Homo sapiens: one gene and its partners. The protein of the gene in region 4 interacts with the protein of the main gene of each other region in a pairwise test. Each region holds a gene or a part of one and is shown on either strand. Other genes may lie near its edges.

Region 1 (7,440 bases), on a different chromosome or scaffold from region 4:
TCATAGTTAACTGCATTTCCCCAACTGATGACTAGTAACTACAGCTGCCTCTTCTGAATTCTTTCTTATGTCTTTTTTCTTTCAGATTAACAACTCTTTCTGAACCATGGGCTCAGGACACACCAAATGAGAGCTAGCCCTCTCTTATGCCCACCTCCTCACAAGCATCCCAAGATAGGTAAGCCAGTCACCTTTATGTCCAGCAGCCAATGACTATGCAGTGCAAATTCTAAGCATAGTATGTTTTTGAACTAGAATAGATGGCGGCTCACACTGATTTTGGGAACCTGGAGTCCAATTCAGAGTTCATCCTACAGCAAATTTCATTTGTACAGTGCTTTAGGGTTTATAAAAAGCTTTCCCATAATGACCTCATTTTGATTTTACAGTCTCACAACTCTCTGAAGTGGAACGACCATCTGCCATTATTCCCATTTCATATAAGTAGGACTTTTGGAGGTTAAGCGACTAGCCCAAGGTGAATCCCTGAGCCCAAATGCAAATCCCCAAGTGCAAGGCTCTTTCCATTGTCCTGCCCACCTATGAAGTGGAGAAAATGTTTACTGACATTGTTCAGGGTTCCCACTTGAAAAACATGTTTGTTATTGAGAGTCCACTACAAGCCGACATTGTGCTAGGGGCTTTATGTTCTCATAACTCTCAGGATAAAGTCCACACTTTACGCGATCCTGTACCGTCCAGCCCACTCTATCTTTCCTGCCAGACAGGCTTCTTCCCATGTCTATCACTGGTCAAGTCCTTTCCTGTCTGAAAACCTTTGCACAAGCAATTCCCTTTGCCTGGAATACATTTTCTTGGCTCTTTTATATTCAGGTCTCAGTTAAATGTCACTTCTTCAGGGAAGCCTTTACTGACATTCCCAACCTTCCCAAGCTGGTCTACATCATCCCACCCTCTCATCACACCCTTTAATTCCTCTCTCGTAGTAACCAAAATTTATGCCCTTGTCGGAGCATAAATGTATATTTGCTCTCTCTCTCCAGCTAGCCCATAAAATCTCGAGGCTAGAGTCTATCTATACCCCTGTTACCTAGAACAGTGGCTGGCATATAGTAAGCACTCAATAAATGATCTGTTGAGTCCATGAGTAAATGAGAACATGGTGGGTTAAGAGTTCAGGATGGGTCAGGTAGACCTGGCTTATCAACAGCTGGGTGGGTGACCATGGCCAAGGCTTTTAAGCTCTCTTGTCTTGGGTTATGCATTTGTAAAATAGAGAAAATACTTTTTACTGTTTTGAGATGATTAACTAAAAAATTCACAGAAAGCACTCATATAAATGCTTGGCACAAAGAAAGCCCACAACAAGGTCAACTCATTCAACAAATACTTAGGCTAGGCATATAACAGAAAAAAAGCTATGGATGACACTTTTTTCTTTTTAACTGCTAGGATAAAATCTAAACTCCTTCAGTCTCTATACCATCTTCTATCTCTTGCCACTCTCTCCCTTAACCAAAATACTCCGGCCAAATCACCTTTTTTCCAGCTCTTAAGTTCTGCCAACCTCTTTTCTTCCTCAGGGTCTTTGTGAATGCCATTCTCTTTCTCCTGGGCTTCACTGGGTTAGCTCCGTCACATTCTGCTAGCCATAACTTTTTTTTTTTTTTTTTTTTGAGATGGAGTCTCGCTCTGTCGCCCAGGCTGGAGTGCAGTGGCGCGAACTCGGCTCACTGCAAGCTCCGCCTCCCGGCTTCACGCCATTCTCGTGCCTCAGCCTCCCGAGGAGCTGGGACTACAGGCGCCTGCCACCACGCCCGGCTAATTTTTTGTATTTTTTAGTAGAGATGGGGTTTCACCGTGTTAACCAGGATGGTCTCGATCTCCTGACCTCGTGATCCGCCCGCCTCAGCCTCCCAGAGTGCTGGGATTACAGGCGTCAGCCACCGCGCCCGGCCATGGCCATAACTTTTAAGTCACCTCCTCAAAAAGGGCTCTTCTGTCCACCCTCGTTTCCTTCTCAGCAGTTACAAAAATTTGCCTTTGTTGGCTTGTTTAGCAACTGACACTATCCAACTAGCCTAGGAGCTCCACGAGGGCAAGAACTGTACACTTCTGTATCCACTCCTGTATCCCTAGCGTCTAGCACAGTGCCTAACACAGTAGAAACTCAACTACGAGCTAAATGAATAAGCGATAGCTCGTGATTATGTAGCATTGCGTCTCACTACTCTCTGAACCAAACTGTCTTTAAATATTATGAGAAACACAGGCACCCCCGAGTTCCTCACATACTGCTCTGCCCAGGAGGAGAGCATTTTAGGTGACGGTAAGGGCAGAACTTACCAGGCAGGGAACGTCTCCCTAGAGGGCAGTTCCCCTGTTGAGAAAGAAGACATTATCGACGTCACCCAAGATGAAAAAAAAACCCAGCTTTTTCTTTTAAGTACACGCTCAAAGCTGTCCCAGTGGTGGTGACAGGTGAATCTCGTAACTCCGAAGGTAAATGCAACACACCGTGCTGGCAGACCCAATCAACACGCTGGGCCTGCCAAACTATCTCAACTTCCCAACGGGACTCATTAATACCCACTGATTTTAACAGAGCAAGACGAGACGGGCGCCGAATCCCGCCGGAGGACTCCGCCGCGCCTCCTCCCTAACTCTGAGTCAAGTATCTGGACGGGCGCGGCTCCCCAGCTCCCGCGCGGAGGGTGGGGTACAGCAGGAAACGTTCCCCGCAGGCTGCCTGGAGAAGGCAGGGGGCCGCTGGGCTCCGCAAAACGGTCCCGAGGGCAACCACGGCCCCGGGCCGCCCAGCCCGCGCGGCCTCCGCGTCCCAGTGCCCTTGGTGCCCGGCCCGGCCGGCGCGCCGCGCCCCTGCCTTCCAGGCCGCCTCTCTGCCCGCCAACAGACTCCTCACCCGTCGGGGCCCCGGCTCGGCCAGACCGTACCTTCTGGAAGGCGGAGAGCGAGCGGCTGAACGCCCGAGACACACAGCGGGATCGGGACAGCATCACGGCGGAGGAGCCGAGGGCGGGCGGACACCGGATATAGGGCCGGACAACAACCGGAAGTGGGGCGGGCCGCAGTACCCGCCGCCCGACGAGGGGTGTTCGGAGCGAACCACTGGCAGGGGGTGGGCGCACGGCGGCGCCCAGTATCCCGGCTGCAGCGCAGGAGTCCCGCTCTCTGGAGCAGGCAACCCTAAGGCGCTCTTGGGGCCCTCCGCACTGCCTGTCAGCCTGAGGTGGTTCTCCTGAAGGTGTATACGACTGTCCCGCCACCACATTGCCCCCGGGGTCAGGCCTTCCCCTACCCTTCCACAGAACTGGCTCTGAGCTTGGCGCCCTTCTCTCTTGGGACCCGAGGGCACCGCGCCGTTCCGCCTCTGTACCTTGGGAAGAGAGCAAAAGAGGGGCACGGACATTGAACTGAAACCTTGGCAGACATGCATGCCTGATCTTACACTTGTGTGGCCTGGGGCAGATGACATTGCCCCCCACCCCCAGTCTCAGGTCCCTTAACTATTAAAAAAAAAAAAAAAGGCACTTGTTACTTCCCTGTCTTCCTAACCCCGAGTCAAAGAAACAGAATCCCAGGAATTTCTAAATCCCATTGCCTTTTTACGAGTCGGATATCTTCACCAACTATAGCCTTATTTCTCAACAGCTTCTGATCTCCCCCCAACGCAAATTCCAGCCAAACTAATTGTTCCCCATACATCTTGTGCATTTTGGAAGTTGTTCGTTTGTCACCCTATCCCTAGAATATAAACTCCCAGCTGTTTTTTTAAGAAACAAGGTCATAGTTCACTGGAGCCTCGACACTCTGGGCTCAAGCGATCCCTCTGCCTCAGCCTCTGGAGTAGCTGGGACTACAGGTGCCACCATGCCAGGCTGACCTCCCCACTTTGAGTGTGCCATTCTTCCCGCTGACTTGAAGTGAAAGCATATAGCATCCCCTTCCCCTCCTTAAGTATTCAGGCCCCTTGAGTATTCACCTTTAAGGCTCACCTTCCTAATGAAAAAGATGTGCTTTAAACCTCTGGCTGAATTAGTAACACATAAATGTATGAATGAATGAATGAACCACTTGGTGCCGTTCATGATGATTTCTTTATCTGAGGCATTTTGCCTGGCCCTCAGGACCTTTATTTTTTATTTTTCTAATTAATTTATGTTTTAATATAAATTGAGACGGGGTCTCACTATGTTGCCCAGGCTGGCCTCAAATTCCATCAGGACCTTTACAGTGCCTTCACTCACCTGAACCCTGAAAGCACTGCCACTGAAATTCTGGAAGGATGGGCCAAAGTCCTAACTAGAAATAGAGAAAACAGCTCTGCCCTGCTGCTACCCACAATTAACTCCTCAGTAGCTTTCACCTGAATTATTTGAAAAGCTCCCTAAGCAGTTCTAAGCCTCCGCTCTCGCTTTCTCTAGCCCATCATCCTTTATATCTGTGTCAAAGATCCTTCTGAGCCTGGTGTGGTAGCTCACGCCTGTAATCCCATCACTTTGGGAGGATGAGGTGGGTGGATCACTTGAGATCAGGAGTTCAAGACCAGCCTGGCCAACATGGTGAAACCCCATCTCTACTAAAAATACAGAAATTAGCTGGGTGTGGTAGTGAATGCCTGTAATCCCAGCTACTCGGGAGGCTGAGGCAAGAGAATTGCTTGAACCCAGGAGATGGAGGTTGCAGTGAGCCAAGATTGCACCACTGCACTCCAGCCTGAGCAACAGAGTGAGACTTCGTCTCAAAAAAAAAAAAAAAAAGAAAGTAAAGAAAAAAAAGAAATCCTTCTGAAATGCAAACCTAATCCTGTCACTCCTCTGATTAAAGTCTTTCATTGCTTCTCCTGGTCGGATAAAGCAAGGGAGATAAAGTTTATCTCCCTTGTAGGATAAAGTACAAACTCCTCAACTTGGCCAGGCACCTGATAATCAGGCCTCTGATTATGTTCTGATTCTCTCCCCACATTCTCACAGATTGTGAGCTTTAGTCAAACCACACTACTGGCCATAGCCTTGCTGAGCTATTTGCATGGGCTGTTTCCTCCTCCTATTTGCCTAGGAACTCCTAGTCATCCTTTAAATCTCCTTCTTAATCCCTTCCTAACCCCTCTGGCAGAGTTAACAGATACATTTTCTATGCTTCCAAAGCACTGTGTCTGGGTTTCTACATTGCATTTTATTGTAATGTCCTGTTTACCTGTCTGTCTCCCATGCTGCATAGAGCAGCAGGTGGAAAGAGACCACTCTCTATTTTCCTGAATTTTCCAAACACAACACCTGGGACATCAGAGTTCCTGGGACTCTGTAGGTACTCAATAAATATTTGTGGAATGACTAAATACTTCCATGTTTACAACATTGGTGGACACAGCTGAAGAATCCAAGAACGGTAGTCAGGGGCTATGGCAATTTCTTGCCAGTGTTGCTGTTAATATTTTTCTTAGATAGCTACCCAGTCCTTTCACGGTCTTTTTTTTTTTTTTTTTTTTTTTTTTTTTTTGAGATAGAGTCTTGCTCAGCTGCCCAGGCTGGAGTGCAGTGGCATGATCTCATCTTGGCTCACTGCAACCTCTGCCACTCGGGTTCAAGTGATTCTCCTGCCCCAGCCTCCCGAGTAGCTGGGACTGCAGGTGCGTGCCACCATGCCCAGCTAATTTCTGTATTTTTAGTAGAGACGGGGTGTCAGACAGGGTGTCACTGTATTTTTAGTAGAGACAGGGTGTTGGCCAGGATGGTCTCAAAATCTTGACCTCATGATCCGCCTGCCTTGGCCTCCCAAAGTGCTGGGATTACAGGCTTTCACAGTCTTTAACAATTTTTGAGATTCTTATAGAAGGTGTAGAGGCTTCAGGCTGGGCACGGTGGCTCACGCCTGTAATCCCAGCATTTTAGGAGGCTGAGGCAGGCGGATCACGAGGTCAAGAGATCAAGACCATCCTGGTTAACACGGTGAAACCCCGTCTCTACTAAAAATACAAAAAATTAGCCGGGCCTGGTGGCGGGTGCCTGTAGTCCCAGCTACTAGGGAGGCTGAGGCAGGAGAATGGCGTGAACCCGGGAGGTAGAGCTTGCAGTGAGCTGAGATCATGTCACTGCACTCCAGCCTGGGTGACAGAGCTAGACTCCGTCTCAAAAAAAAAAAGATGTAGAGGCTTCAAGACTTCAAGCCTGGTTATAATGTGGCAAAGCACTTCTGGAGTTTTAGTGATCACCCAAGTTAATCTTAGATATTACAGTCTAAAGACACCACACACACACACACACACACACACACACACACACTCGAGCATGGTTTCATACAAAATCCCATTGAGAGGGTAAAAGTTGAAATTGATTTCCTCGAGATTCACATACGAGCTTCCATGGACTCCAAGCTGCAACCCAATAAGCTAGGGCACTCCTTCATTTAGAGCTTCCCAAGACACAGCACCATCTACTGGGGCAAGAGTTTATGAATATAAATTGTGGCAGGGCTCAAAAGAGAATTTTTTTTTTTTTTTTGAGTGGAATCTCACTCTGTTGCCAGGCTGGAGTGCAGTGGCATGATCTTGGCTCACTGCAACCTCTGCCTCCTGGGTTCAAGCGATTCTCCTGCCTCAGCCTCATGAGTAGCTGGGACTACAGGCGCCCACCACCATGCCCGGCTAATTTCTGTATTTTTAATAGAGACAGGGTTTCACCATGTCGGCCAGGATGGTCTCGATCTCTTGACGTAGTGACCCCTCCACCTTGGCCTCCCAAAGTGTTGGGCTTACAGGCGTGATCCACTGTACCCGGCCCAAAAGATAATTTTTAAAAACATTTTCATTGTAAAATACGTATTAAAAAGGATATAAAAATCTATGTGTCCAGTTTAAAAGAAAAATAATAAAAGGAATTCCCATACTTGCTGCCCAGCTGAAGGAATGGAAAAGTTCCCTGTGGTCTCCTCCATCATCACACCCAGTTAGCCACTACTATACTGAATTATATATTAACCATCCCCTTGTTTTCATTATAGCTTCAATATGCTTATGTTCTATACACATTTTTGCCTGTGTTTTTAAATTAAGAAAAAGATGTCTCCAGCAGTGGTCTGATATAGAAAAAAATAAAAAATGAAAATGAAAGATGTATTTACTTTCAAATTAAATAAGAAAAAAGGTGTGTTTTTAGAAAGGATTAAGTAGCTCATTTACCTCAAATCCCCCGGTTTTCTTATGTGTGTTCTGAACCATACATTCACATCCTTGCCTATGAGTTTATGAATATTATCGGCCAGCTAGTAGATGGGGCTATAGCCTATGCTTCCATCTTTGGGCTCCTTAAAATAGGGACTATGCCCTATATTCACTCAGTGTTACCTATGATACCTAGATTCCATCTATCTGTCTATCTCTTCATTCAGTTGTAATTCAAAATAATGGACTGATGAATACACAATGAAAATCTAGACATGTTTTTGTGTGGGTATTTTTTT
Region 2 (7,509 bases), on a different chromosome or scaffold from region 4:
TTATCTTTGGGATTTGATTATTGTATCACCACAGCTCTCTGTTAGCATAGATAATTGAGGGGTGCTTGTGAACACTCGTGACTGAAAATGCCACCATTGTTGAGGAAATTAGGTTCTGCGAAATGGCTTCATGGTTTGGCTCCACATTAAGGATGAGGTGTACAAGAATGAAAAGGGAAATAATTTCTGAATATATTTTCTTCATTGCTGTGACTTATTACTTACTGCATATTGGCCCTTTGGCTTTTATACTATAAAAAAACATAAGTTCGGTTATATTCTGCTGACCAAAGGAAATCATGACATAAACTGCTAGTTGTACTGTTTCTTTCCTGTTTTGCAACCAATATAAAATACTACATTTCTCTACATTAAAAATATACATAGTGAATTTAAATGCTTCCTCAGTTTAATAACCACTATAAAAATAGCCAGGAAAAGCCACTGGTGGTAATGCCACTATTTTTAACCATGAACTGTATTCTCAAAATACCATAACTAGATAATTGGGACATAGGAGAGTTGTCTTTCTGTGATTTTGAATTCTAGGGGTTTGATGTGAGAATGAAATTTAGGCCGATTTTATTGTTTTAATGGGAAGTTCATCTGCATGATCTATTAACAATGAAATGCAAGAGGCCATTAAAGGTGAAAAAGTAACTTCCTACTATTTTTCATGGGTGTTTTCAAAGTAAGATAAAGATTTATTTTCTGACTTTGTATAGTGACCACAGCCAGGGCCAGAGAAAAGTGATCTCCCTTGAGTTGCTTGCAGTCTGCACTCTGACTTCCTCCTCTTGGCCCAGTTGAGTCCAGACATTTCAACAGCTTGACTAAGCCTCATCACCAGTTAGCTGCCAAATTCAGTGGCTGCCAATACCACTAGTAGCTTTTTAAATACACCTGTTGCCAGCACTATGTTTGAGTCAAGAAGGCTAGACCTTTCTGGTCTACCCCAGTGGCTAAGCTCTCTTTCAAAGGAGAATTATTTTTAGTATTACTTCATCATTTTTCCTTAAGAAAATGTTTTTCTAGCAAGCTTCTCTCCTTACAGAGAAATTGCATTTACACTGATCCCAGTACATAACATCTCGTCTGGGTTAGCCTAGGGAGAAAGAGTAGTTTCAATAATTGATATTACCTGTGGGGCCAGCAAGATATATGAATAACAAAACATAAAAACTTGGTGTAACTGAGAGGTTTCAAGTGTAATAATCAAAAACCACTTACAGCAAAGTTAATCTGATAGTTAATGGTATGTATTGCGTGGTAATTAGGTATAAACACTAAGTACTTCATATAAAGGACTATAATTAATGTGTTTCATGAAGCCAAACAAGCATTTTTGGAGCAAGCTTGGTGGGGAGATGAATAGAAAAGCAGTTAAAGCTAGATTCTGTTCTAAAGATCCTGGACCACAGATCCTCTTTGGCCAGGTTTTTCTGCGTTTCCATTAGCATTTGCTCACAGCCAGGAGGCCAGTGGCCAGGAACAACTTTCCCTATCCACCACAAAGCTGATAAAAAGCTAAAGAGAAAAAGTGTGGTGGATTCAGTTCTGACAACCTTCCAATCTTTGAAACACTGTATGACTATTTAGCTGTAGCTTAGCAGTACTTTAAGGTGAAGAAATAGGACATATCAGAGTATTTCAATACTTTGGGCACTATATAGCCACTGATAAGGATTCTTCCTCAACAGTCTTTTCAGCTAGTAGGACTTCATGAGCTCATTTTGATCCATTTGACTATGAGTCAGTGTTCTCAAGGTGTATGTGTTTTGCTTTTACCAATGGAATATTTGGTCATAGATAAATCTGTAGTTTATTAAAAAACAAAAAACACCAAACTGGCTGGGCACAGTGGCTCACACCACTTTGGGAGGCTGAGGTGGGCAGACCATTCGAGTTCATGAGTTCGAGGCCAGCCTGGCCAACATGGTGAAACCCTGTCTGCACTAAAAATACAAACATTAGCCAGGTGTGGCGGCACATGCCTGTAATCCCAGCTACTCAAGAGGTTGAGGCAGGAGAATCACTTGAACCTGGGAGGTGGAAGTTGCAGTGAGCTGAGATCACGCCACTGCACTCCAGCCTGGGTGACAGAGCGAGAGGCTGTCTCCAAAAAAACAAAAAACAAAAAACAAAAAAAAAACCCAAAACAAACAGAAAAAAACCTTACACATACGTCTGGTCTGAGGTTGACATGTCTTTACCCTAAGGATATCTGGTTATTTTTTTCCTGCAATGTGTGCCTGTGTATGACGCCAGTGACACTGTTTCTATTGACTGACAGATTTGATTTGGTGTGACCTGATAAAATGATCTGGTTCAAATGCCAATTTCATTGGCTTTGTTCTTGCCTCCTTTCTTACCTGACATTCAATACATCAGCAAATCTTGTTTGCTCTTAGAAATGGAATCTCACCATTTTTACCACCTGCACTCTGGTCTGTCATCAATGTATTTTACCTGGATCATTACAATAGTCTTCTAACATCTAGTTGCTCTTAGGCTCAATCTGTTCTCCACAGTGCAGCTCTTCTCTCCCAACCCAAATCAGATTTGGTCACTCCTCCAATGGCTCTCCTTTTCATTCAGAATAAATTTTAAAGGTTACAAGATTCTACAACTATACCCTTCTTGTACCCTACTCCCTCTTCTGATTTAGTCAGCTGCTTTCCCACCGCTCACTGAATTCTAGCCTACACTGACCTCCTGCCTATTTCTCAAACATGCCAAGCCCACTTCCACTTAGGGTCTTTGCATTTGCTGATCCTTCTGTGTAAAATATTCTAACCCTGGGTAGCCAAATGGCTAATTTCTCACTTCCTTAGTTCTCTGCTCAAATGTCAGAGAGGCATTCCCAGACAAACATATTTAAAATAGCATCCTCCCTCCCCATGTCTCCCTACCCTGCTTTATTTTTCTATGACTCACCATCTGGCATAGTAGGTATTTATTGGCTTTTTTTTTTTTTTGGCCTTTCCGACTACAATATAAGCTCTATGACAGCAGGCACTGTATATCTCGGTGAGCTGTTGTATCCTCATTCCTTAGAACATTGCCTAGCCCATTTATGAATATTTGTTGAGCCACATGAATCAAGGCCTCCTTTTGAGATCGTGAACGTTTTCATTTATTTATTTATTTTTTTGAGACGGATTTTCGCTCTTTCACCCACGCTGGAGTGAAGTAACGCGATCTCTGCTCACTGCAACCTCCTCCCCGCCTCGGGTTCAAGCGATTCTTTTGCCTCAGCCTCCCCAGTAGCTGGGATTATAGACTCCTGCCACCACGCTCGGCTAGTTTTTGTATTTTTAGTAGAGACAGGGTTTCGCCATGTTGGCCAGGCTGGTCTCGAACTCCTGACCTCAGGTGATCACCCCCCCCCCCACTTGGCCTCCCAAAATGCTAGGCTTACAGCCATGAGCCACTGCGCCCGGCCATTTTTCTTTTTAAAAATAAACTTTCCAGATCTTAATTTCATGGCTTTAACATTTTAAATGTTTGAGGTATAATCTACTCATTCTTGGCTCTAATCTTTTTGTCAGGGAAGTTAAACTAGTGAGAGACCTATGAACAACAGCAACAATTTAATGAGCACGTCTTATATGCCAAGCTTTGTGGTTAAGCACTTTGCTTTATCTCACTTAATTCTAACTATGGTCCTAGAGGTTGGTATTACAACTAATCTCCTTTTACAGAGAGTTACTGAGACTTGGAGAGGTTAAATAACTTGCAGCCAGGTCACAAAATTAATCACTGAGTTGAGACGACAATTAAGGTATGGCCGACTCCATACTGCCTCCTAGCCGTCTCCTCGAGTAGTTCATGCCCTGTTAACTTAAGTCGTGAAGCTGCTGGTGTCAAAGCATTCCTTTTGCAGTTTCGTGTACTAGGGTTCTGGGTGATTTTGCACATATTTATTTCAAAGATCCTCCGTACCACACCAGGGAGTTTACCTTCTGGAATGTTGTTGAAGCCCCTGTCCTCTATGCTGGGACACTTTCATGCAACGTTTGCTTAGCCAGACTCAGGAAAACGCCTTTTTTTTTTTTTCTCATTTCCCTGCACTCCACATTAAACACAGAGGTAGTTTAAATCACCTGGTAAAAGAAGATGGGATCACAAACGCTGTGGTCCAGAAGGGAACATCAGTAAGTCGGTTCACCGCTTGCAAGTGGGGGCACTTACATATAAATGAAGAAAAAACAAGTTCTTAAAAAGCAGCCGACCCTGGGTTCTTAAAAAGCAGCCGGGGAAGAGGGCTCAGGGGACCGGACGCGGTGCCCCGCACCACGCTAGGCCTGACAACCGGAAGAGAGGGGCCAGGAGGGGCTCCTCCAGAGCGACTTCGGCTCCAGTAGGGAAACCGCCGAGGCTCCCCCAGCTCCAGGGAGCGCCGGGGACGCAGGCGGGAAGCCTCCATCGGGCAGCCGGCCTGGACTCACGACGCGGGGTGGGGCCGGCGCCCGCCCCGCCCCTCTCCTCGGGGATGCCGGGATGTTTACACTCCTGACAGCGGCGGCAGCAGGAGGAGGATCGGGAGTCGCGGGAGGATGGGCCGCCGCTAGGCTCGCACTCCGGACGCGCCTCGCAGTGCGCAGGGTGGGTGCCCCGCGCCTGCAGCGTCCGCCGGGGCGGCGCGGCGGGAGGTGGCCGACAGGCTCCGGGCCTCGCAGCCTCAGCCCCCGGCCCAGCGCGCTTTCCGACGGCGGCGCCGCGCCGAGCCACCCGCCCGCCCAAGGTCTCTCGCGGGCGGGAGAACGGAAAACTCCCAACTTCCTGGTGAGTCGCTGCCCAGGGTTCAGGCGCCCGGACCGGGCAGCTCCTGCCGGGAGGGGCCGCCTGCGGGAGTCGGGCCGGGAGAGGGAGGTCGGGACCGCGCGGGGCGGCCTCCGGGATACCCTCGCTCGGGGTAGGTGGGGCGGGGCGCGCTGCGCTCGAGGCGGATGGGGGTTTCGGTCTTGTTCGTTGGCAGCGGTGGGAGGGGGCGGCAGGAAACTTCATACCTGGCCCCGGCTCTAGAGGCCCGAGGCCGCCAAGGGCGCCGCGGTAACTAAGAAACTCCGTGGCCACGGCGGCGGCGGCAACAGGTCTTTGGTTTCGGGACCCGAGGAACTTAAGCGAAGTCCCGCCTTCCGGCGGATGCTCATTGGCGACGTCGGTTATTTATCTCTCGCGGATTGGTGAAGTCCGTCTGTCAGGATTCGGCAGCAGCCCGACTTAGGAAAGTGAAGTGCGCTGGGAGAGAGTGGGTGGTGGGAGCCGGCAGATAGGGGAGAATCCGAAGTGGCTTCAGAAGTACAGGGAGCGTGAGAGGTCTGTCGGAGAATGAACTTGGGAGAGACTCGGGATTACAAAATGTCGGAGAGAGGGATTGCGAGGCAATAGCGAACATTGCTGGTGATGGTGGCAATGGAAAAGAAATTGAAAACTGAGGCCAAAGTCAGAGAAGGGTAGCCAAAGGAAAACAGAGAAAAGTGACAAGACCGTATGACCGCAGAACAGTGTAAGGAAGCGAGCACAACCTAGAGGATGCTGCCTTGAGAGCTAAAGAACTTCTGTTGCCTCTGTTACACTGTAGGCCTTCACTCCTAAAACCGCAGCATCCTCTATTTAGTCTTGCACTGGGAGCGTACTGGGGTCGCGGAGAGATGATGTATCGTGTTCTCACCTTGCTGTAGTCCTCACTGGGGAGAAATGCTAAAAAATATACTTAGTTTACAGTAAGATACATGTTACTGTCCTTGCGCAATTCTGGTGACTGAACTGAAAATCAGAAATACACAGAAATAAAATGATTATTCTCCTTTGAGGTTACTGAGCTCAAGGATGCAATTGAAAACACCACATTTCCATAGTTTGTAGAGCCTAATGTACCCATCATAATGGGAACCACTGTTTCTAGTTCCTCCTCCAAGGAATTTACAGTTTCAAGGCTATGCACACTCCCTCCAGGCGACAGCAGTATGTCTTGTCAGGTTGCATTAGAGAATTAAAGTACAGAGTATGTGTATTATAAATATGTTCTGTTCAGGACCTTGAGCTGCTGGTGGTGTGGTCGAAGAATGGCATAGTCCTTGCACTCAAAAGCTACAGTATGTTTGGGACAACCGGTCAAACCCTGAAAACGGTGAACAGTAAAACAGGAGATACAGTTAACCCTCTAATGCTTTGTGGCAACTCTTGTTGAATGGCCGCTGAGTATTCTTGGTTTGTAACACTTGGTGATGGCCAAGTGCTCTTGAAACAGCTAACTTAAAATCTCAGCAGTTATTTTATTTCCAGAGGAAGGAATTCTCTCTCCCTCGGCGAGATCCAGTCCACAGCTTGCTTCACTCTTAGAACAGCGGCATCCTCTATTTGGTCTCGCACGGGGAACTTGCTGGGGTAGGGGAGAGGTGTTAGAGCTTTGAAAAAGCTTTGCCTCTCGGAGGAGTCAAAGGGGCAGTAACTGTATGGGGTGAGAGGAAGGCCTGCGAAATAAAAAGGCAAAGGAACCGTTTGAGGAGGCTAGTTGCCTTCTCGGGGCCGGTGTGTGTGCGGGGGTAGTGTTAAGGGGGAGGAAGGAGCCCGGGAGCCCGGAGGACCCTCCCGGAGGTGCGGGCCTGAAATTCCGCTGGGTGCCGGGAGGCTCCGCCCTCCGGAGTACTGACGGCCTTCGCAGCCAATGCGCAGCCAGGACCTCGCGTTCGGGAGGGCGGGTACTTCCTACTCCAGCCCTGGGCTCGGAGAAGGCCGCGTTAGTTCTTTTTCTAGGGATGTCTGCGGAAGGGGCGCCAGGCTGAGGGCCAGCCTGGAGAAAGAAAGAAAGGAAGGAAGGAAGGAAGGAGGAGGGGGGCTTCAGTTTTCCCTGAGCCATCCTAGGTGTCCCGTTTCGTGATTCAGCTGCACCTAGAACTTAACTACTACTGAAAGTTTATAGTAGATTAGAAGCGAAGTTGGTCAGCAGACTAAATATAGTCCATGTGACTGAGGCGGGTTTTACTCTGAAATTACCTGAAAATGAAAACCACTAAATGTCAGAATCTAAATCGTTAGGCGTTTTCACAACTTCTTGGGAATCTTTCCATGGTTAAAAATCTTACCAATTTAACAAGACTAACTTTATTTCTAAGCGTACAGACTCATTTTATAGTCTGAACTAGTATTTAGGTTTATTTATTTAGATAATACATGTAGCACCCACCATTGCTTTCCCCCTTTCATATTTTCCTGTCTGGACAATTTCGAGTTCATTTCCATCCCAGTAAAACAGCACTTACCCAAAGAATGAGGAAAGCACATATGGTATGATGGCAGTGTACTAGTAGAGGAGGGGAGATTTGATGCCTCTATAGCTAACATACCTGATTAATAAATTTAAAAAAAAATTGCATCGTAATGACCAGAAGTCCAGTGCAGTTACAGTTTGTGTAAATAAGTACTTAATCTCATAAGGACCTCATGCCCCAAATCTTTCCTGGTGCTTGCAGTTGATAGTTTTGGGCTCTGACTTACTGTAAA
Region 3 (7,938 bases), on a different chromosome or scaffold from region 4:
CAATGTGCCAGTTCTTGACCCTCAACATATAGCCTCACTTAATCCCTTACAGCCAAGTAAACTAGGCAGCATCTCCATTTTCTTTTCTTTTCTTTTTTTTTTTTTTTTGAGACATAATCTTGCTCTGTCACCCAGGATGGAGTACAGCTGCTCGATCATGGCTCACTGCAGCCTCAACCTTCCAGGCTCAAGCAATCCTCCCACCTCAGCATCCGATTAGCTGGGACTACAGGCGTGTACCACCATGCTCAGCTAATTTTTGTATTTTCTGTAGACACAGAGTTTTGCCATGTTGCCCAGGATGGTCTCGAACTCCTGGGCTCAAGTGATTCTCTCACCTCGGCTTCCCAAAGTGCTGGGACTACAGGTGTGAGCCTCCGAGCCCAGCCAGGATCTCCATTTTCTGATTACAACTGAAGCTTAAAGAAATTAAGCACTTGTCTCAGGTCACTTAGCTAGTTACCGAATTTCCAGAATTAGAATCCAAGTCTGTCTGACCCAAAGTCTATGTTCTCTCCAAAAAGAGGTTAAAAGTACTATTATTTCATTACTTACCAAGACAGAGAATGGGTTTCTTCCCAAAGGAGACTGAAAACACTGCTTATTTTAACAACAAAAACATATTATCTCAGTTAATCCTCGCTATAGCTTATTAACTATTATTTTTATCCATTATAAATGATGAAACTAGAACTCAGAGACGTATTCATAGCTTGCCCAAGAACACACTGCTAGGAGGCAGCAGAACTACCCCAGGTCTGCACCAGCTGCACACACTAACCACAGAAAATGCAGAAAGACCTCAGCCATGTAGTACAAGCTTAAGGTCCATCCAAAGTATTAAAATAATCAGACCTTGTGCTTCTTGGGTAAAAAGGAACGGTATATATTATGTATGCCAATTCCCACTATCAATGATGAGGAGGTTGACTTTCTAGTAATATCCTATCTATCGAATGGCAACCTGAAGATCGGTAGCTAAATTTCAAGCCTATACTGGCCATTCTACTACACCAAATAATCTGGATTTGTTGCCAGTTAAAATTATTCTTAAAGTAGCAAACAACAGTACTATATTACAAAGCAAAGGTTTATGAAGAACAGTATGCTAAAATACGTAAGATAGGCCTGGCATGGTGGCTCATGCCTGTAATCCCAGCACTTTAAGTAGCTAAGGTGAGAGGACCACTTGAGTTCAAGAGTTCAAGACCAGCCTAGACAACATAGGGAGACCTCTTCTTCTACAAATAATAAAAAAATCAGCCGGGTATGGTGGCGCGAGCCTGTGGTCACAGCTACTCAGGAGGCTGAGGGGAGAGGATCACTTGAGCCCTGGAGGTAGAGGCTGCAGTGAGCTGTCATCGTGTCAGTGCACTCCTGCCTGGGGGACAGGGAGAAACCCCGTCTCAAAAAAATAAACTGGATAAACACTTAAGTGTTTGAAATACTTTCACGAATACTTTCACAGGAACAGATGAATAGAAATCACTTAGCAACATTTTCAAGGCAACATCTGAAAACTACTTTGTCTATTTCCTGACGTATGTTAGGGCCTAAGTGAACCAAAAGAGATGTCTACAATGCCAGTTCTGAAAATGTTACCACTTTGGTCAGACAAGTGTTTAGTCTTACTGTATAGTTCTGTTTATCAGAAACCCAGAGTAGCCTTTTCTACTGAGACTGGCACAGGTATATATTCCGAAGGAACTGTCCCATGTGTTTTTGATAAACCAAAGTGACGAATGAGAGGGTGGTTGAGTGTTAACATGCAACATAAAAGGATGGTTGTCATTATTCACTTTTTAACAAAAACTAGTGGCATGGTACAAACCCAAATCCAGAAAAAAACAGAATCACTCCATTGCAAAGTAACCAGGTAGAGACTTCCATGTTTGTTCATCCTACAACACGACTGTCATCTTTTAACCTCATGAAAACTACCCGAGTTCTTCAGCAAACTGTGCCGCTGCCGCATACAGACATCACTGTGGATCACTAAAAATCAGAATGCATCAAGAATTGCTTCCAAGCCTTAACTAGCACTAGCTCAGCTACAAACTCGGAGGTAAACAAGCACAGACTGACTGACTGTGGAGCGGGGCACTGTTTACTTACATGGGAAGACACTCATGTTGTGATGGGAAACGTGTTGCACTGTCCACCCCTAGCTCCTAGAAAAACGGTACTTTGACAAGCTAATGTGAGTGTAAGTCTATTCCCAAAAGTTTTTACCTCTCTTCTTAATCGCTTAAGGACAAATGCTCAAAAAAGGACGCCCGACACAAGGTGCCCGAGGTGCTACCCATGGCATTACCTGGAAGGACATCACTATGCCCATGAAACTGTCCCCTCACAGTGGACTAAAAGGAAGCAATAGATACCGTCATTCACCCTGGCGAAGGAAAAAGAAATCAAAACCAGACGCGCTTCCACCTGGCCCCAAGAGGCTTGGAGCAAGACTAGGGTCTAAGCTGCGGTTCAAAAACCACACCAGGCCCCTCCGCCTCTGCTCTCAAACGCAGCGCGGCGACACAGCAGAACCATCAACACCTCCACCTCTGTCCTCCAGGCACAGCCAGGGACTGCGTCCCAGAGCCCGCCCCGGTCGGGCCCGCCCCGCTATCTCCTCCCCCGTTATCCGCTCGCAGCCGCGCTCAGGCCTGGATTCGCCTCCCCACCCTCCCCAACTTCGGCACGTCCCACTACCCCACACACGTCGGCCGCCGCCCTCGGCGAGTCCGGGGAAGAAAGGCTGGAGGGCCGCAGGGCAAGGAATCCACTCAGCACGGTTCCTCACCTCTGGGTGGAGAAGGGGCACACAGCCCGCTTCGGTATCGTACTCATCCGGGCCGTCCGCCATCTTGGTGTTAAATCCCTCCTCCCGCTGCATGCTGGGAGAAAGCGTTTCACCCTCCCGGGGCTCGGGCGAGGCGGAGGGCGAGCGCGGGGCGAGCGCGAGCCCCGCCGGAGGCGACGCGGGCCTCCTCCTCCTTCTTCTCCTGCCCCCGTGACGCCCCCTCTGTCCCCTCCCCCCTCGGAGGGCGCGGGTTTCTCCGCGCGTGCGCGGAAGCGCGGCCCGGCCCCAGACTGGATCGCGCTCTGCTGCACTGCGCTGGGGACGGCGGAGGGCTCTGGGCGTGGGCCCCGCGGCTCGGGGGCGGGTCCCGGCTGGAGGTAGATGTGAAGCTCTGGCTGCCCGGGGGAGGCGGCCGGGCGGTTGAGACAGTCGCTTGGGAAACCTAGCAGCTGCTCAGGAGCGAGAACAGAGCTCCGGAGCCGCACGCAGCACAAGTCTGGAGCCCCAGGCAGCCGAGGAGCCCACGCCCACGCGCTCCCACTTCCGCTCCGGGACCCCCGGGACCCCTCTTCAGGAACTCGGGCAGAGTCGTCAGCCAGCTCCAGGGAGGTTTGGGCCCGTCAGGCTTGAGTCGAGACCTGCATCATTCCTGAAGACAAAAGCAGCTTCCCTTTCCTCCACACTTGAAAAGGTCACCCGCAACCTGTCCCTCCGGGGGACGCCCGGAAAAACATGGATACAACTCGGGACTTCCTACTAGAGAACCCTTTTTTTTTTTTTTTTTTTTTTTTTTTTTTTTTTAATGAGACAGAGTTTTGCTCTTGCCGCCCAGGCGGGAGTGCAATGGCGCGATCTCAGCTCACTGCAACCTCTGCCTCCCGGTTCAAGCGATTCTCCTGCCTCAGCCTCCCGAGTAGCTGGAATTACAGGTGCACGCCACCACGCCCGGCTAATTTTTGTATTTTTAGTAGAGACGGGTTTTCACCATGTTGGCCAGGCTAGTCTCGAACTCCTGACCTTAAGCGATCCGCCCGCCTCGGCCTCCCAAAGTGCTGGGATTACAGGCTTGAGTCACCACACCCTGCCGAGAACTCTTTTTAAAATGATCCCAACCTGCTCTCAATCGTCTTGAATTAGTACCACACAAAAAATTTACGAGCTCAAAGCCCACACACCGCCATCTGCAACATTTCGATATAATCCAGGAATTCAGAACTGAAGCCACTTAAACTGAATTCGCTTAAATGCAAGGCAGATAAAATGACTAAAGCCATTTTTTAAAGGATTTTAGGGCGGTATGGGGGAGGTGCTCCCTGTAAATGGGCTGATGGGACAGTTTTAGATAGCATTTGTCTTTCCTTTTAGCTGTTAAAAATTGTAAGTCTAAACAGCTGAGAATTTAGCAGAGATCATGAAAGTTGACCTATTAGAGATCCTGGTACTTACTAATCTGTCTCCTGTTAGGCCAGAAACCACCAGGAAAAAGCCTGTACTCCGATAACGTCAGGCCAATTTGTAAATCAGGAGGGAGGGCACTCCAAAGGAAGCTTGGAATGCCACTGGAAAAGGAAAGAGGAAGCCTCCTTTGTAAGATTAGTTTCCCGCCAAAGGAGTCTGAGGAGGGTCTAAGGAGAGCCAGAATCAGTTCTGCATGGGACGCCGTTTCCGTGGCGGCATGAAGAAAAGCTGGGATTTACGAGGGATTGGATGCTGTCTTGAGGATACAGCAATTTAGTAATTAGGTACCTCCAGTAATAAAGTAGCAACACTAGTAAGAGCAGCAGTTACTCAAAGAGGGGTGAATATGGCGTGTCATAGCTACTGCACGGCTGTGGGAGAAAGAAGTTTCTCAGTTAACTTTGCTGCTGGCTTTTTCTGTATCTGTCCTCCCAGCACAACTACTTTTTCTCATTTCAGTCCGAGCTGATTTTCATTCTGTTCGTCCTGGCCCAAACTAGGAGTCATCTTTTACAGCTAGATAGTCTCAGGGTCGGCCCTTGGAGCATCGAATTGTTTTCAGTCATATGTTAACATGGACATAAGTCATTTTCACTCAAAAATCTCAATTTTTTTTTTTTTTTTGAGACTGAGTTTCACTCATGCCCAGGCTGGAGTGCAATGGCTCGATCTCGGCTCACTGCAACCACCACCTCCCAGGTTCAAGCGATTCTCCTGCCTCAGCCTCCCAAGTAGCTGGGATTACAGACATGCGCCACCATGCCCGGCTAATTTTGTATTTTTAGTAGAGACAGGGTTTCTCCATGTTGGTCAGGATGGTCTGGAACTGCCGGCCTCAGGTGATCCACCCGCGTCTGCCTCCTAAATTGCTAGGATTACAGGCGTGAGCCACCGCACCCAGCCAAAAATCTCAATTTTTTTTTTTTTTTTTTTTTTGAGACGGAGTCTTTCTTGCTCTGCGGCCCAGGCTGGAGTGCAGTGGCGAGATCTCAGGTCACTGCAACCTCTGCCTCCCAGATTCAAGCGATTCTCCTGCCTCAGCCTCCTGAGTAGCTGGGATTAAGGGCGCGCCACCATGCCCTGCTAATTTTTGTATTTTTAGTAGGGATGGGGTTTCACCATGTTGGTCAGGCTGGTCTCGAACTCCTGACCTCGTGATCCACCCACCTCGGCCTCCCAAAATCTTGGGATTACAGGCGTGAGCCACTGCGCCCGGCCAAAAATCTCAATTTTGAATCTTGCCCTTCCTTACCTTTATGTCTTGCATTGACTAGAAATAGAAGATTAGAGTAAATAAAGGACACCGACTGAAAAAGTTAAGTGGCATAAATATTAATAAAGCATTGAATGAAGTGAGAGTGTAAAGAAACTAGGCATGGAAAACTGGAGAAAATGTTTCAGGTACCCATGTATTAGGAATATTGGTACAGGTATATGATGTGGAGTATTCATAAAAGAAATGTTTAGCCTTCCCTGCGAAAATCAGTAAATCAGAGTTCACTTTAAAATCTAGAGTTCTAGTTCATCTGGCAAACAAGCCATCTTGACCTTCTTGCTCAGTCTCTACCAGGTCTATGGCCTGCTTTACTCGTTCTCATTACCTGCCTGGCTCTGTGGATATTTTTACTCCTGAGAATTCCACAATTCAAATATAAGGAAAATACTAAAAGCAGCCGAAAAGTTGGAACAACATAACCAGGGTCCATGTCTGTCTTGCTTACTGCTGGAGCACTAAAATAAATAGTTATTAAATGAAGAACTGAAGAAAGAGATCAAGAGCAGAAGCAGGCATGCTTAGGAAAACATGTTGAAGTTGAATCTTGAAGCAAACCCTTTAGATATGATCAGAGTCCATCTTGATAACTGTAGAGTTCTTATCTATAGCTCAAATTGAGAAAATATATTCAGGGGACTAAGGAGACAGCTAAGAAAGTACACTGATTGGATAGACTGGCAAAAGAATGGCATAGAATTATGGAGGAATGCAGAATAGTGGCTAAAAAAGAATAAAATTCAAAGAGAAAAATAGACCTTGTTAGAGAATAATTGTGAAATGGATTTAGAAGCAAACAGATTGGAAGGCATGGGGCATTGTTGTATAAATATAGTTTCATATGTAACTTCAGACACTACTGGAGCTAAAGACAGCATAGAGATTATCCAGATTTAGTCATTTCACAAAAAAGGAAATGATGGGGAATTTAAGAAACTCTCTTAAAGTTACAAAACTAGGTGGTAGCAGAATCATCTGGAAGCCTCCTGAATTTTCCCCATCTACTACTCTTTGCCTCTACCACGTTTCTTCTGTTGTTATTATCCTCAATGAATTATTACTTGGTCCATTTAATTTTTTTTATTGTGGGCCGGGCACGGTGGCTCACGCCTGTAATCCCAGCACTTTGGGAGGCCGAGGCGGGTGGATCACGAGGTCAGGAGATCGAGACCATCCTAGCTAACACGGTGAAACCCCATGTCTACTAAAAATACAAAAAATTAGCCGGGCATGGTGGCTGGCGCCTGTAGTCCCAGCTACTCGGGAGGCTGAGGCAGGAGAACGGCGTGAACCCGGGAGCGGCATGTGCAGTGAGCTGAGATCACGCCACTGCATTCCAGCCTGGGCGACAGAGCAAGACTCTGTCTTAAAAAAAAAAAAAAAAAAAAAAAAAAGGTTTTTTTGTGGTGAGAACACCTGACGCAAGATCTCTCTTAAATTTCTTTTTTTTTTTTTTTTTGAGACGGAGTCTTGCTCTGTCGCCCAGGCTAAAGTGCAGTGGTGCGACCTCGGCTCACTGCCAGCTCCGTCTCCCAGGTTCACGCCATTCTCCTGCCTCAGCCTCCCGAGTAGCTGGGACTACAGGCGCCCGCCACCACACCCGGCTAATTTTTTGTATTTTTAGTAGAGACAGGGTTTCACCGTTACCCAGGATGGTCTCGATCTCCTGACCTCGTGATCCACCCGCCTCGGCCTCCCAAAGTGCTGGGATTACAGGCGTGAGCCACGGTGCCCGGCCGATCTCTCTTAAATTTTTAAGTGCACAATAGGGTATTGTTAACCATAGGCACAATGGTGTACAGCAGATTTCTAGACCTTATTCGTCTTATATAACTGAAACTTTATACCCATTGAACAGCACCTCCCCATATCCTTCTACCTTTGGCCCTGGCAACCACCATTCTACTGTTTCTATCAGTTTGACTATTTTAGATACTTCACCTTTGGCCTTCAGTGAGTGGCTTATTTCACTTAGCATAATGTCCTCTGGGTTCATCCATGTTGTCACATATGGCAGAATTTCCTTCTTTTTAAAGGCTGAATAATATCCCATTGTATGTATATACCACACTTTATCCATTCATCCATCAATAGACATTTGGGTTGTTTCCATATCTTGGCTATTGTGATAATGCTGCAATGAACATGAGAGTGTGTTTTATGTCTTTGAGATCCCAATTTCAATTCTTTTGAATATATAAGCGGAAGTGAATTGCTGGATCATACGGTAGGTCTATTTTTAATTTTTTGAAGACCCATCATACCATTTTCCATAGCTGCTGAACCATTTTACATTACAGTGTACAAGGGTTCCAGTTTTTCCACATGCTTGCTAACACTTATGTTTTGTGTTTTTTTTTTCATAGTAGCCATCCTAGTAGGTGTGAAGTGATATCTCACTGTAGTTTTG
Region 4 (7,020 bases):
TGGCCCTGCACTTCACAGTTGCACCACTTTGGGAATGATTTTAATAGTTTCCTGATCCATCTAGTGGGATCCCAATAGGTATCCCAGAGTCATGAGGATTAAAATGAAATAATGTATACAAAGCATCTAGCACTCAGTCAACTGACAAGGGTTCCTACAGGGACCATTCAGCAGAGGCATCATCCCCTCTGTAAAGGCTTCCTTCTTTTGGCCACGCCAACAGCTCCCTGACGTTGGTCACAGCACTGATATACTATTTAGCACCTGTGCTGGCAGTTACAGGCTAGACATACCATTTCTCTGAGTGAGTGAGGGGCATAAGGGACTGCTTTTTAAATGATCTTTGTGATCCTAGCACCAAGCACATGTCTGGCACACGGTTGTCATTCAATGTGCCTCTGAATTAGTGACATGGTCAATCTAAACAAGCATCCACTGAATACATTTTAAAATTTGCCAAATAGCTGGGAACGGTAGCTCACTCCTGTAATCCCAGCACTCTGGGAAGCCGAGGCGGGTGGATCACCTGAGGTCAGGAGTTCGAGACCAGCCTGGCCAACATGGTGAAACCCTGTCTCTACTAAAAATACAAAAATTAGCCGGGTGTGGTGGTGCACAGCTGTAATCCCAGCTACTCAGGAGGCTGAGGCAGGGGAATTGCTTGAACCTGGAGACAGACGTTGCAGTGAGCGGAGATCACACCACTGCACTCCAGCCTGGGCAATAAGAGCAACTCCGTCTCAAAAAAAAAATAATAATAATAAAATAAAATTTGCCAAATAGATACCACTTCTCAGTAAGCCTCACTGTTAATATTTCTTGAATCCTCCTGAGTTAAAAAATCTGTATATTCTTTGGTACCATTTGAAACATGAGAGAGTCTGCTTCTTCTCTCATCATTTATAGAACTGGTCAAGTGTATTCTCCCTACCCTTCCCTCAAACTCATACTTTAAAGATAAAAAGTACTTGGTATCCCTAGGCACAAACCATGGGAATTCTCTGTAGAATGAATTAAGCATCATCTACTCCCATTATCAGCAATTCAAATACAAGAGCTAATTTTCTTCTTTAGTAGATTTCTGTGGAATATACGAACAGAAAATTCCTTCTTTAAAATATGTCTTCTCCCTTTTTCAGTGTTTTATACATTTTTATTTTCCTAATTTTTTAATGTTTTCTAATCTTAACATTCCATCTTGGACAATGACACAGGTTATATTCCTTTTTGTTTCTGAGAGTTTCATTCTGTTGCCTAGGCTGGAGTGCTGTGGTGTGATCTCAGCTCACTGCAGCCTTGGCCTCCCAGGCTCAAGCAATCATTCCATCTCAGCCTCCTGAGTAACTGGGACTACAGGCACGCACCACCATGCCTGGTCAACTCTTTTTTTTTTTTTTGAGACGGAGTCTTGCCCTGTCGCCAGGCTGGAGTGCAGTGGCACGATCTCAGCTCACTGCAACCTCCGCCTCCCGGGTTCAGCGATTCCCCTGCCTCAGCCTCCTGAGTAGCTGGGACTACAGGCACGTGCCACCATGCCCAGCTAATTTTTTGTATTTTAGTAGAGACAGGGTTTCACCATGTTGGCCAGGCTGGTCTCGATCTTCTGACCTTGTGATCCACCCACCTCACCCTCCCAAAGTGCTGGGATTACAGGCGTGAGCCACCGCGCCCGGCCCGCATAGTTAACTTTTCAAAAAAAAATTTTTGTAGAAATGGGATTTCACCATGTTGCTCAGGCTGGTCTCAAATTCGTGAGCTCAAACGATCCACCTGCCTCAGCCTCCCAAAATGCTGGGATTACAGGTATGTGCTACCACACCAGCTAACACAGGTTGTATTCTTAAACAAATGTAGTTTTGTTTCCAAGTATTACACACTAGAATGACAAACGTTCAACACAACCATAGGAAAATTTCAAAAATATATACCAAATGTCTAGCCTAGAACTTTTTGAAGCTTAAAATTAGAAAATAAAGCCTTTACTCTGAGCTGATTACCAAGCGTTGCTTAAGTGACTCTCAGCTTACCTGGTTCGTATAAAAGAGGCACATGCTTTCAGCTGAGTCTCTATCAACACTGTTTCTCTCTTTTCTGCCATACAGTTTTGGATATTTGTCAGAGCTTTCTCATTTTTCTGGCTATTACTGCTATTCGCTTCCACAGAAAATAAAGAGCTCTCAGGCAAGGTTTCAGGAAAACACAAAAGACAGTCTTTTCCTGAGTGTGGAAAGAAGGATTTGATAGTTTTGTCACTTGAGGTGAAACTGTGCTGTTTCTGAGATGACGCAAGTGCTGCTGAAAGAGCTGGCCCCAGATTCAGGTAAGCCTCTGCCAATTTGCCCCAGTTCCAAGGATTAAAAGGATGCAAAGAAATCAGTTTCTGCAGGCAGAAAATTGTTTTCTCCAAGTTCTGCAAACTTGAACAAATAGCAAGCTGGAGGTAGAGTACCGTGGTTAAATGGTCTGTGTTGGTTGCTTTATTTTCCTAAGGAGAAAAAAAAAAGGTTAAGAAGTTTAAACTTCAAAGCATTTTCCATATAAAATGAGAATGCCTAAAAAACCAAGTTGTATATGTTATAAATTAGAAGTATCTTTCAGTAGCTATACGAGTGACCTAAATATATTTCAATATATCTCATGTTTGAAACCGTAAACCCAGAGAGATATATGCTACCTAGAGAAAGAGTCACCAGCCATTCCCAAACATCCTAATGTCATAATAACTTAACAATTCCTAGATGGTGGCCTGCCAAATGTTCAGCATCAAAAACATAAATATCCATTTATTTCCAATTTTTATTATAATCTTTACTGTCTTCAGCCAGGTATCTGAAAGACCCAGCCACTTTTCTTAGATCCTGGCCTAATGATTCCATTGTAATATTCAAGGCTTTCTAAAAATCCAAATGGTAATTTCCTTGAGGATTTGAACAAACTCCACTTCCAAATTTTATTTGGCTTAGACATTTTAAACAGGATAGCCCTGAAGCTCTCCATGCTTCATGACGCATTCTAATTGAATCCAAATGCCTTCCCTGGTAACCATTACCAAGGTCAATTATAATTTTTGGCCAAAAGGGGTTGCTTAGTTTCCTTTTGATCAGAAAATCCTTTTCAAATCTCCTTAACCAGCGCCAACATCTCTTGCCTAACTTGCCATATGGCAAATGTCCTCTGGGTTAGTAAAAACAGGCCTGCTTTTTGTAAGTTGAAGTTTGCGGAGAGCAGATGGCAGACTCAAATTACCTTCAAGTTGATGTGAGGTCTAAGGAAAGCCTGGCCTGCAAGCGTCCAGATCAGGCTCCCTCACAGAACCACACTGAGCATGAAACATGAGCAAAACTACCTGGTGTACGGCCCCAGGAAACTGTACACCAGCAAGTGAAGGCCTGCGGGCAGCTCTAAATATTCCCACATTGAGTGAAAAGATAGGAGATAAAGCCCCATACGACTGATTTGCTGACACTGTACCTTCCCAAAGACAGAACACATCTCGTTTTATTGTTACTATTGTTCAGCATCTGTCCTTCCCAACAGACCATTTAGCTCCATAAGAGCTTTTGTTCAATGTAAATTCCTAGTACAGAGCACAGCTCCTCGGCCATCACAGATGTTAAATCACGTTTGAGTAATGACTTTTCTAAAGTCAAATCATGTCATTTATAAGGAAAACAACATGTATAGACTACATCTGTAACAAATGCTACCCTTCTTCTGTAACCAGTCTATAGGGCTTTATATTGTTCAAAAACTTTTTTTTTTTTTGAGACAGAGTTTCGCTCTCGTCGCCCAGGCTGGAGTGCAATGGTGCGATCTCAGCTCACCGCAACCTCTGCCTCCCTGGTTCAAGCAATCCTCCTGCCTCAGCCTCCGGAGTAGCTGGGATGACGGGTGCCTGCCACCACACCCAGCTAATTTTTGCATAAAGTAAAGACAGGGTTTTGCCATGTTGGCCAGGCTGGTCTCGAACTCCTGACCTCAAGTGATCCACCCCCTTCGGCCTCTGAAAGTGCTGGGCTTACAGGCATGAACCACTGTGCCCAGCCTCAAAAACATTTTGATATTGATAAAGCAAGTGTGTGTTAGGGTGGAGGCTGTTACTCACAAACTATGATCCTGATGACAGGGTTTTGTTTGTTTGAGATGGAGTCTCATTCTTTTGCCCAGGCTGGAGTGCAGTGGCGTGATCTCGACTCACTGCAATCTCCACCTCCCAGGTTCAAGCAGTCCTCCCACCTCAACCTCCCAAGTAGCTGGGACTACAGGTGCCCACCACCACACCAAGAGAGTTTTTAAAATTGTTATTAGGGATGCGGTTTCACCATGTTGGCCAGGCTGGTCTTGAACTCCTGACCTTCGCCCACCTCGGCCTCCCAAAGTGCTGGGAATACAGGCATGAGCCACTGCGCCCTGTCAATAGTAGGGTTTTGAGAGGTGGATTAGTAAACTCCTTCTGGAAATTAAATTCTATTTAGGCCGGGCGTGGTGGCTCACATCTGTAATCCCAGCACTTTGGGAGGCCAAGGCGGGCGGATCATGAGTTCAGGAGATCGAGACCATCCTGGCTAACATGGCGAAACCCCATCTCTACTAAAAATACAAAAAATTAGCTAGGTGTGGTGGCGGGCACCTGTAGTCCTAGCTACTCAGGAGGTTGAGGCAGGAGAATGGCATGAACCCGGGAGGCAGAGCTTGCAGTGAGCCAAGATCATGCCACTGCACTCCAGCCTGGGCAACAGAACGAGACTTCATCTCAAAAAAAAAAAAAAAATCTATTTAAATGAGTGAGTGATTTTTCCAGAATACTGCAACTCTTTCTGTAACAATAACATGATGATGACAGTTAACATTTACTGAGTGTTTACGCAGTGCCAGGCACTATTCTAAGTGTTTTCCTCATTTAATCCTCCTGACAGTGCTTTAAAATAGATTCAGTAATTTTCCTTATGTTACAGATAAGGCAACTGGGTCACAGAGAGGTTAGATAACTTGCCTGCCATAACGTGGCTGGTAAGCAGGAGAGCTACAGTCAGTTATACTAAAAGTCAAGGAATAAAAGGTACTTACGAAGAGCTGATATGGCCAGGCAAGGTGGCTCACCCCTGTAATCTCAGCACTTTGGGAAGCCGAGGTGGGCAGATCACTTGAGGTCAGGAGTTCAAGATCAGCCTGGCCAACATGGTGAAACCCTGTCTCTATTAAAAATACAAAAAAGGCTGGGCGCATTGGCTCATCCCTATAATCCTAGTACTTCGGGAGGCTGAGGCGGGTGGACTGCCTGAGCTCAGGAGTTCGAGACCAGACTGGACAACATGATGAAACCCCGTCTCTACTAAAATACAAAAAATTAGCCAGATGTGGTGGCGGGCACCTCTAATCCCAGCTACTTGGGTGGCTGAGACAGGTGAATCGCTTGAACCCAGGAGGCGGAGGTTGCAGTGAGCCAAGATCGCGCCACTGCACTCCAGCCTGGGCGACAGTGCGAGACTCCATCTAAAAAACAAAAAAACAAAAACAAAAACAAAAAAACAAAAAAAAATGTAGCCAGGTGTGGTGACACATGCCTATAATCCCAGCTACTTGGGTGGCTGAGACAGGTGAATTGCTTGAACCTGGGAGGAGGAGGCTGCAGTGAGCCAAGATCGCACCACTGCACTCCAGCCTGGGCAACAGAGCAAGACTCCATCTCAAAAAGAAAAAAAGAGCTGATGTATATGTGCGCTGGCTAAACCGACCAGACACTAGATGAGCACTGCATGTACACGATATATTGTTTGTCTCCTTAGCATCGAACCCAGAACCAGGAAAATAGTAGGACTGAAATGTTTGTTGAGTGCTGAGTGGATAAATGAAAAGGAGTCACTTACTACCAGAAAGCCATTTTCTTACCACAGTTACCACACAGGAATACCAACCACTATAAGAAAATGTTGTAATTATTTAAGAAATAAGTCCTACTATAAATTTTATCCAAAAATCATGAAAAGAGGTGAATGAATTTCAGCAGAAATTGTGAACAGAAAATGTTCGAATCTTGATGGCCACCCCGGGACTTGCTGTCTATTTTGTTCAATGTTACATACTGCGACAGGTCCCCCTACAGAATGTGAAAAGACAGTAACCACCGTCACAAAAAAACAGATATGGGCCAGAGCTAGTAACAAAAGGCGAGGGTCCTCAGGTAGAGAAGAAATTTTAAAAAACAAAACAAAACACAGCTTACCAGGAAATGAGAATGCCGTGCAGACACGCAAGGTCCGCTGAGATCATGTGTGAAGCCGACAGAAAGGGGCGAACCCCACGAGCCCGCTTTCCACCTGACAGTCCTGCCCAACAGGTTGCCAGGACGCCTGATGCACAGTTCTGAAAGTCCAGGGTTTTCTGACTGGTGTTTCTCCTGCCTAGTAACCATCCCCAGCACCGGAGACCTGGCATCGGCTGATTGGCAACAGATCCTTCTCTGAGCCACCGAAACAGATTCCCTAAGCTAGAAGGAACCAGAGATGACCCAACCCCTGCCAGGAATCCAGCTGCCACTACCTTCAACAATCAAAGAGGAGGAGGAGGAAGCACAACAGTGACGTGCAAGAAACGCCGAGCGAGCAGGACAGTAGTAAAGGCTACAGAAAGGCACCGGAAGGGCCAAGAGCACTGTTAATTTGCGGACTGGGGAAGACTAGAAATGAACACAATGAAATCCCATCAAGTTAACTGCTCATGCAAACGCTTAGGAAGTCGATTTATCTATCTTTCAGCTTAAGCACTAACCCCCAATTAGTAGAGAACAGAAAAGAAAGAACAAAACACAGCTGTTTTCCATGTTCTTAGAACAATTACTGCCAAAGTTTCCTCGAATTGCAAGAGGCTGAGGTCCTATGCAGTGAAGGCTTAAGCAAACAAAGGTTAGGGATTTCTCTTAGTTAATGAGATGGCAGATGTCAGCTCAATTGTGTGCATACGTTAGGCTGATCTGATCGCTGGGCGGTACATCCACAAAGCTCAAAATCGGTGCCACAGTGT

What was found.
Region 1: the proteins of ZHX1-C8orf76 (region 4) and DLST interact in binary tests that used the Homo sapiens proteins (3 or more experiments, as listed by UniProt).
Region 2: the proteins of ZHX1-C8orf76 (region 4) and NEK7 interact in binary tests that used the Homo sapiens proteins (3 or more experiments, as listed by UniProt).
Region 3: the proteins of ZHX1-C8orf76 (region 4) and ZDHHC17 interact in binary tests that used the Homo sapiens proteins (3 or more experiments, as listed by UniProt).

The regions. Positions count from the first base shown.
Region 1 is NC_000014.9:74,877,492-74,884,931, reverse strand, and holds the start of DLST (dihydrolipoyllysine-residue succinyltransferase component of 2-oxoglutarate dehydrogenase complex, mitochondrial isoform 1 precursor), read right to left. Parts: upstream 3,017-7,440; 5' UTR 2,979-3,016; coding exon 2,916-2,978; intron 2,342-2,915; coding exon 2,308-2,341; intron 1-2,307. UniProt on the Homo sapiens protein: Dihydrolipoamide succinyltransferase (E2) component of the 2-oxoglutarate dehydrogenase complex. The 2-oxoglutarate dehydrogenase complex catalyzes the overall conversion of 2-oxoglutarate to succinyl-CoA and CO(2).
Region 2 is NC_000001.11:198,152,489-198,159,997, forward strand, and holds the start of NEK7 (serine/threonine-protein kinase Nek7), read left to right. Parts: upstream 1-4,509; 5' UTR 4,510-4,788; exon of another isoform or gene 4,789-4,918; intron 4,919-7,509. UniProt on the Homo sapiens protein: Protein kinase which plays an important role in mitotic cell cycle progression. Required for microtubule nucleation activity of the centrosome, robust mitotic spindle formation and cytokinesis.
Region 3 is NC_000012.12:76,759,189-76,767,126, reverse strand, and holds the start of ZDHHC17 (palmitoyltransferase ZDHHC17), read right to left. Parts: upstream 3,013-7,938; 5' UTR 2,891-3,012; coding exon 2,798-2,890; intron 1-2,797. UniProt on the Homo sapiens protein: Palmitoyltransferase that catalyzes the addition of palmitate onto various protein substrates and is involved in a variety of cellular processes.
Region 4 is NC_000008.11:123,229,273-123,236,292, forward strand, and holds part of ZHX1-C8orf76 (zinc fingers and homeoboxes protein 1), read right to left. Parts: intron 2,486-7,020; coding exon 2,028-2,485; intron 1-2,027. Other genes in the region: uncharacterized protein C8orf76, read right to left, coding at 2,028-2,485.